Regions from separate parts of the Homo sapiens genome. Here region 1 is linked to region 2. Evidence: fine-mapped expression QTL. A gene starts in region 2. The other region holds a variant in brackets. All regions are shown on one strand. Distances are between the middles of the regions.

Evidence for each region.
Region 1: its variant is fine-mapped to the expression of RESP18 in putamen (GTEx, PIP above 0.99).

What each region holds. Positions count from the first base shown.
Region 1 is chr2:219,658,196-219,662,587 of GRCh38, forward strand. No RefSeq gene overlaps it. Among named protein-coding and RNA genes, the nearest start is that of SLC4A3, 33 kb to the left of the region's middle. RefSeq lists a cis regulatory region at 3,832-3,999. The variant A/C (reference allele first, on the strand shown) is at 2,018.
Region 2 is chr2:219,331,104-219,335,495 of GRCh38, forward strand. RESP18 (regulated endocrine specific protein 18) reads right to left here and starts at 1,641. Exons shown (of 6, transcript NM_001441699.1): 1 at 1,421-1,641. The coding sequence starts at 1,526. RefSeq lists an enhancer at 3,620-4,392.

The DNA of each region.
Region 1 (4,392 bases), 330 kb after region 2:
TGCCTCACAGAGAGGGGGGACCTCTCTGTAGCCACAGTGTGGCCAACACAGAACCGGGCAGAGATAAGAGACAGACAGACAGACAGAATCTTTTTTGGGCTGAGTCCCTGGGAACCTTTAAGTTCCTGGTCCCTGCAGCTTGTCCTCCCTAGCTAAATTCCATTTTCGGTTTAGGCAAATTCTAGTTGAGTTGTTTGGCACAAGCAGCTGAAAAAATTCCAGATAAACACATTCCCTACAGAGCACCCCTCATCCATATAGCCTCTCTTTCCTCCTCTGGCTCCACTCTGGAAACTATAAATGTGATCTAAAACTTCCAGTCGCAACCTAAAACCATGGGACACCTTTCCACCTAGAGATTTGGTTAACTTTGAAAGATAGGCTTCAGAGGTCCCCTGAGAAGCTGCCTTTCTCCTCTGTGCTGCATCCAGCCACAGAGTTGAGTCAGAGGCAGGGAAACAGCATGATTCTGCTGTTTTACAGCCTGAAAGAAACATCTGGACGGGAATGCACTTTTTTCTTTTTCAGAATACAAGAAACCTCCAAAAATCAAGCCGAATGTTTTTGAGAAACATTTTGTGGTGGTAAACGGATTGGGTGCAAAGACACCTCCGTCTTTGATTCCCATAGTCCCTGATTTATTTTGGCATGGGAGTGTCTGTAGTGCTACCATTCAGCCACATGTTAATTTTTTGTCTACGCAAGGTTGTAAACTGCATATGGTTTATTTCAATTAGCTTAATTGTTTTTGGTATTTAATAGCTAATTGTCTTAATTAGCTTCCAAAGCACAACAATGCTAAGAACGGTAATGACTACATCTTATCCATATGGTTACAGAAGACAGATGACTCAATTTCCCATCCTCAGGCTGTGTGAGTCTCAGGAGGACAGGGCAGATGTGCAAGGAAGAAGATGGATGTCCTCAAGAGAGCTGGCCCGGCCTTGAATGCAAAAACCTGAATATTAAGAATAAATGAGGAGGTGATGGACAGGGAAATAAAGCAGGAGAATGAAGGATTTATGGAGGACTCAAGTCATCTATTTCCTTAATGTAGATACCATGCAGTGATGCTGGGTGAATAATAATAAGAATAACAACAAATTTCACAGTGCCAGCAGGCTATATTGGCTCTGATCTGAAGAGGCAATGTTTGAAGACCAAATTGTGGGACATTGAGAGTGAGAAATGCCCTGTGGTGCAATCAGTCTTAGGAATAGCTGGTACCAGTCAAAGCCTGGGTGACATTTCTCTGGCAAATCTGGATCAGAAGTAGTTCATACCTAGTGCCTGGCATATATTAGGAGCTTAATATATGCTTTAATCAGCATCTGCCAGGAAATCCTGGGGGCTCAACCTTCAAAATCTATCTCTAACCTGACACTTAGCATCTCCTTTACTGCTGCATCCTGGTCTGATCCACCACTGTCTTTCACCTGGCTGCCTCTCCCAGCCTCCCAACTGGTCTCTTTCCATCTACCCTCAGCCCCTCTGTGTTTACTCTCAAAGCATAGCTAAAGGAATCCTTTAAAAGCAGAAATCATATCATATCCCTGCTCTTCTCAGAACCCTCCAATGGCTCCCATCTCACTTGGGATAAAAGCCAGAGTCCTTGCAATGACCAATAAAGTCCTTCTCCATCCTGTTGTGCCTTTCTGAGTTCATCTCCCACCATTCCCCAGCCCCCTCCGCTGTGCCACACTTAATTCCTTCACCTGTTCATGCTTTAGGGCTGTACTGCTTGAGTCATTTCCACTAGCCACATGCAGCTACTTAACATCAACTAAAATTAAAAGTTGAGGCTGGGCGTGGTGGCTCACCTCTGTAATCCCAGGTGAAGGAAAGAGATTTAATTGACTCACAGTTCCGTGTGGCTGGGGAGGCCTCAGGAAACTTACAATCATGGTGGAAGGTGAAGGAGAAGCAAGCACCTTCTTTACATGGCGTCAGGAAAAAGAGAGTGAGGGGGCACCTGCTAAACACTTTTAAACCATCAGATCTCGTGAGAACTCACTCA[A/C]TCACTATCACGAGAACAGCGTGGGGGAAACCACCCCCATGATCCGATCACCTCCCACCAGGTCCCTCTCTTGACACATGGGGATTACAATTCTAGATGAGATTTAGGTGGGGACACAGAGCCAAACCATATCAGCAAGACCCTGTCTCTACAAAAAATTTAAAAATTAGCTGAGTGTGGTGGTGTGTGCCTGTGGTCCTAGCTACTGTGAGTCAATTAAACCTCTTTTCCTCATAAAGGTAGGAGGAGAGACTGAGGTGGGAGAATCACTTGAGCCCAGTAATTTGAGGCTGCATGAGCCATGATTGTGCCACTGCATTCTAGCATTTCTCAAAAGAAAGGAAGAAGGAAGGAAAGAAAGAAAGAAAGAAAGAAAGAAAGAAAGAAAGAAAGAAAGAAAAAAGTTGAGTCCCTTAGTTGCACTAGCCACGTTTCAAGTGCTCAATTGCCACAGGTGGCCTGTAGCTATTGTATTGCACAGCACAGGTAGAAAGCATCATTCCAGAAAGTTCCATTGCACAGTGCTGCCTTAAGGACTTTAAACTGTCTGGAGAGCTCTTTCCAAAGATATCCACTTGGCAAACTCCCTCAACTCCTGAATCTTTGCTCATATGTCACTATTTCCATGAGGCCCACACTGACCACTCAATTTAAAATCTCAACCCACAGCCCAGCTCCCCACTGCAAGCATTCCTGCTCCCTTGCTCTGCTCACTTTTTTTCTATAGCACTTAACACCTTATAGTGTCTTATACAATATAATCATTTATCACACTCCCTGGTTACTATCAGGCTCCCCCCATGAAAATGTATTCTCCACTAACTGAGGGTTTTTTGGGTCAATTTTGTCCACTGTTGTATCCCCAGCACCTAGAAGAGTTCCTGGCACAGAGTGAGCACTCACCAAATATTGTCAGAAGAGTTAGTTAATGGATCAACACATTTATTGGGCACCTGCTATCTTCCAAGCTCTTTGCTAGACACTGGGTATTGCAGAAAATCAGGAGGGCAAGAGAGACCTCAGGGTACACAGGAGGATCTTTTATTAAGTGTCCTCAGACCCAGTGGACTCAACGTCCAAAGACTGGACCCTGAACAAAGACAAGGTTTTGCTTATATACCCACTCCTAAGTGGCACGAACACGAATGTACAGAGGCAAGACAAAGGCCATTAATCAAACTAAGGCAGGCTCATAACTCAGGTTCAGTATACTCCTTACTATGCAGCCCAGATGGTCATTATCTGGTTAGTTCAAAGGAGTTTCACAAAGACTCATCTTGCAACCCCCACCATGGTGTCTAGCTGGCTGCAAGCTAGACCTGCTCAGGCATGTCTGGTAACCTTTGCTATACTGCTTAGGTGAAGAAGCAGGAACCTACAATCATTAACTATGGGAAAAACAGGAACTCATAAAATTTACAGAGCAAGGAGCAAGGTATAGTCACATAGTAGAGGGGATGGGATTCGAGGGGAAGTTTACTTACACTAAAGGGGAGCTAGGAAAACTTATCTCTTCACATCGTTATGTTGAGGGAGAACTAGGAGAGTCTTCAGAGCACATTCCTTTGAGCTCTGGCCCTTAGATAACATTATCAAAACGTTGCCTGTTACTGCCTTTGAAATGAGTCAGCCTAATACAGGCAGCTTGTTTTTTCTCTTTTTTAATTTCTATTTTTCTTTCTTTCTTTAATTTTTCCCACCTCACGGGGATTCACAGAAAAATTATAGAGAAATTGTTCCCACCTTTATGGAGTTTCTATTCTAGGGGGAGAAACAAGTAAACAAGTACCTCATGCAAATTCTGGAAAGTCCTACGAAAGAAACAAATAAGGAGCAGAAGTAGAGAAGTGTGTGTGTGTGTGTGTGTGTGTGTGGAGTGAGGGTGCTGGGTAGGGAGGCTGTGATGAAGTCAGGCAAGCTTTGTAAGGAAGTACAAGTATTGAAGAGTATTCCAGAGGAAATACTCTCTGTGTGGAGACTCTGATGCCAGCAGGAATGCATGCATGGGTGAGGGAATGCTGCTCAGAGGTGACTGGTGAATCAGAATCATCATAGATCAGTCACCAAGTGGGGGCTGCCTTCTGTGGCAGTGCTACCTGAACTGTAGTCTTGAACCAGAAGCATTGCATCATCTGGGATCTTGTTAGAAATGCAAATTCATAAGCCAATTCTAGCCCTGAGAATCTGTGTTTTCCCAAGCCCTCCAGGTAATTCTGATGTGCCCTGTTCTAGAGCACTGTATCCCTCTATAGAATATAGGCACATGGTGAGTACCCCATAACCATTGCTTGAAGGAATGAATGAATGAATAAAGGAAAGGACAAATATAAACCCCCTCCCTGCCACTCTCCCCCATGCCTGTTCTCCTTCATGTT
Region 2 (4,392 bases):
TAACCAGATTTACAAAGAGCAGCCTGTAGAAGTTCAGATGCGCAGAGGCTCAGAAAGCTGAGCACATGGGAATAGTAATCAGGTGGGTAGGTGGGGCATGGGGAAACAGGTGAGCTTCATCTTAGGGAAGTCATTGAAGCCTGGAAGTGTTAGGGAGGAGGCCTGGAATCATTAGAAAAGGTATTGGTTTGTTTAGGGTTTGAGGCTCTGGATCCTTTTCCTGAAGCCCACAGTTTGCCCAACTGTGCATGAGAGGAAGGACAGGGGTTGGGGAAGAGAACCCCTAATGCTATGCACACCTTCCTTCTTCCAGATCAGTGAGATAGGGCTGGAGGACAGTCTGTTTTTTGCTATAGTGTAGTTACCATGAGCCATTCTGGACAGGTCTTTAGAAAAGGGAATTCTCCTACCCAGTCAAATGGATGTCTAATAATTTCCTGGGGGTAAGCGTGACAAAGTTTTAAGTAGAGACATTTGGGGATGAGAAAGCCTCCTTAAGGAAGTAGTGGAACCTCCAACACCCTGAGGAGAAGGGAAAGAGCTTCGGGAAGGGGAGCTGATTCTCTGAGGCAGCGTTCCCAGGACTGGTGGGAAGGAGTGGTGACCCGCTCGGGCTCGGCGTGGACCCGGAGCGCGCCTGGCGCTGTCCGTGGTGCTGAGAGGTGGGGAGGCCAGCGTGGCGGCGGCGCTGGGCGGAATGTGGGCGAGACATCTCCGCAAGGCTTGGCGGTCCTTCCCCACGGCCCTCATCCTCTCATTGCCACCAGGCCTCCTCCCACAGCTGTTCCTGAATCCGCTGCATTGGCCTCTAAAACCAAAAATCAGGGAGAGGGGGCGACAGACTAGGAGTTTGCGCTCTCTTCCCCATGCGCTCTGCGCAGGAGTTCTCGAGTGTGCGCAGTCTGGCACGTGAGTCAGCGCGGGGTCTACGCGGATTGGTGCGGGGGAAGGGGAGAAGGATGGTCCCATTCCCCCTCCATCCTGCTTTCCCTCAGCGGTCCCCTTATTGGAAACCGGATCACAGCACGAGGAAGCCCTGGCTCGTCTCCTGGCCCAGCCTTCTCCCTGGAGCCAAGACCCCGATACCCGCAGCCCTGGTCAACTCTTTTTCTGGCCTTTCTTGCTTCTCCTGTGGCCACATAGGCCAGTTTTACCTCTCTCTGTTCATTTGTCTTTCTGACCTCTTCCCAAATCCCCAATTTTCACCTGAACCCACTTCTCGTGAGTCCAGACCCCATATGCCCAGCCTATCTGAAGCCTATGCCTCTTTCCGCTAGACGCTGTCTACCTTTTTCTCTTCTCACGTCCTTAAGCACATTCTTTTACTTCCAAGTTTCCTAGCCTTGAGGCCCCCTGCAGACCCCCACTTCTCAGGATCGCTTTCTTGGCCCTGCCCGCACCCCCCAGGGTTCCTCCTGACCGTGGGCACTAGTGTCGCTGCAGCCCCCCGGGCAGCTGTTCAGCAGCAGGAAGCAGACAAGCAGCTGGAGCCCCTCGGAGCTCCCAGGCCACAGTGGGTGCTGTATCCTCCCAGGCTCGGCGCGCTCACTCCCCGGCCAAGTCTCAGTGAAGGTAGCGGCCACGGCCGAGGGGCTGAGCGGGGCTGCAGCTTCCCACCAGCCCGCGACTCCGAATCTGTTTAACCCTCCTCGGCAGTTCAGCCAATCGTGAGCGGGCCCTGCCCCTGCGGTCGCCTCCCCAGCTCCTTCCCCTACCGCCTCCCCACCCTCATCTCTTGGAATTCCTGACCCGGCTCCTTTCGGGCATTAGCTGGGTCCCAAGAACCACCGCCTGTACTCCCAGTCCTAAGGCTGCAGAAACGGATGGCACGTAAGATACGGGTGCAAGTTGTACCTACTCAGGTTTGTTGTGAGAATCAAATATGAACAGCGATGAAACAGTAGGCACTCAAGGAATTTAGTTTATTTTATTATCCTTGACACTCTTTACTCTGGCCCACTTAAAACCCTTTAGAAATCATATAGGTTCGATCTGCTATATATATATATATAATATTATATATTATATATTATATATGGCACATCCATCCACTTTACTCCACATCCACTGCCATCGCCTTGGTCCAAACCACTGCACACTGTACTTTTTTTTTTTTTTTTTTTTGAGACAGTCTTGCAATTTCAGATCACCACAACCTCCGCTCGACCTCTACTCAACCTCAGGCTCCAGAGTAGCTGGGACTACAGGTGCACACTACCATGCCCAGCCAATTTTATTTATTTATTTATTTATTTTTGTAGAGACAGGGTTTTGCCATGTTTCCCAGGCTGATCTCAAACTCCTAGGCTCAAGCAATCCTCCCACCTTGGCCCCCCAAAGTGTTGGCATTACTGGCATGAGCCACCATGCCAGGCCTTGGACACTGTACTCTTTTAAATTGAGTTGTTGTAGTAACTAACTAGCTAACTGACCTCTTGCTTTCACTCTTGTGTACTTACAAGCTAGTTTGTGAGCTTTCTAACTCTTAGACTGGCATTTAAATTTTTTTTCATTAAGCTTAAAACATTTATTAAACTGGGCATGGTGGCTCATGCTTGTAATCTCAGCACTTTGGGAGGTCGAGATAGTGGATTACTTAAACCTAAGGGTTTGTATAGTGAACATTTGGGGTTGATACATTACAAAGGATCTGAATTATATTATTATCTTTAAAGGGTAATAGTTTGAGTTTGTTCTGGCAGGCAATTAAATTTTTGGTAAAAAGTCTTGATCCTGTGGCAGTCTGGTTAGGGAAGGAGTACTTCATCCTATTCTCAATTCTAGCCTGTATCTCTTAGTCCTGGGATATGGTGCTTATGGCTAAGGTGTGGTCCTTTTTGGATTTCAACATAACCCAAAGTCATTTACCAAAACTCTCTATTTTACGGGTCCTGAACTCCAAACTCAGTCACCCTAACACTGTGACAGCTGCCAAAATCTCTGTTCAGATATTTGACTTTTTCACTAGGTTCCTTGAAATCTCACCCTGCGCAAGTGCCATTTAGAAGATAGCTAAGAATTGGAGGGGAGTTAGGATGCAGATTTTGAGTTCCTCTCTCTGTAATTTATTCATTTTCTAAATTTCTTCCTCAATTTCCAGATGCTCTGGCATCTCTGTACTCCAAAAGCTGTTTCCTTAGTAAGACTGCCAGTTGCTGACAGAGCTGTTTCCCTGTGTACTGCAGTGAACTCTGAAGTATCTTCAGAGGAAAAGCCTATACATGTATAAGTCACTTGGTGGACTTCCTTTTTTTGAGGACTATACTCCCTGTAGGTTTCTAACTCTTGATCAGTCTCCATGCTTTCATACAGTTATTTTTATATTTTGCCTAGAGTATATACCCAATGTTAGGAGGATCCGACACAAGTTTCTGTCTTGTCACGCCAAAAACTAGAGGTTTATCTGGTTGTCACTGATTATGTACTGGACATGCTATTTTAAAATAAATTTATAGCAATAATTTGAGGCCTAAGAGCAAATGAACGTGAACCTGCTTTGTGAAGTATAATGCTCCTGGAAAAAGGGAAATATTGGTCTTTGGGTCGGCTGAACAAAGGTGAGTGTGCTCCTCTCTGTATTTTAAGATTTTAAACCACCAGGAGAATGGCTATCAAAATGATAAATGTACAGGAGCATTGATGCTGCTCTTCTTTTTACTGTTCATTGGAAGGGATTCTAATGCTAAGAGTAATACCCTCAGAAGACTTAGCAGGTTTTCAGGCCTATTGAACCAGGGGTTCGTAGGAAGGAACTTTCTTTCCCAAGAAGAAAGAAAGACTACCATAAAGTGTAGCTGGGGAGAGTGGGCGAAGGAAGATTGTAATTCAGCTGTGGTCCTACTCTGTCTTACATTCATGTTACAAATGATGTCCGGAAGGAGAAGGAGATCAGAAGCCTAGGCTCCATGTGTACCAAGGAGTTTTACTATTTCAATCCCCACCCCAAATGTCCTCTCTGTTCTGGCTTTACATATTTTAATTCAGAAGCTCTGGCTGAGGCCCACTGTCTTACTTGCAGACAAGCCTGCTTAAAGAATTTTCATGAAAACTCACTTTAAAAAATCCAGTAGCAAGTTGTCCTAAAACTGCCTCTCTGCAGGGTAATGGGGCTGGGAGAGGAGGAAGGCCTCAATCTGTGACAAAGTTTTGCTCAGAGAAGGAAACAGTTCAAAGAAGCTCTAAAATGGGAGGAAAATCGGATTTGGAATTTGTGTGTATATGTGCCAGGGGCTCCCCCTCCACAGTGTAAGCTCCCCTCACCCCACTATATAAGGGCCTCTAGTTGCAGTCTTGACTTGGGCAAGTCTTGAGGAATAGTGACTCAGCAACCACCTGACAGCTAGCCTCCCCTTGGCTCCGACGTCATGATCTTCTCTCTCTCCCTGATTTTCC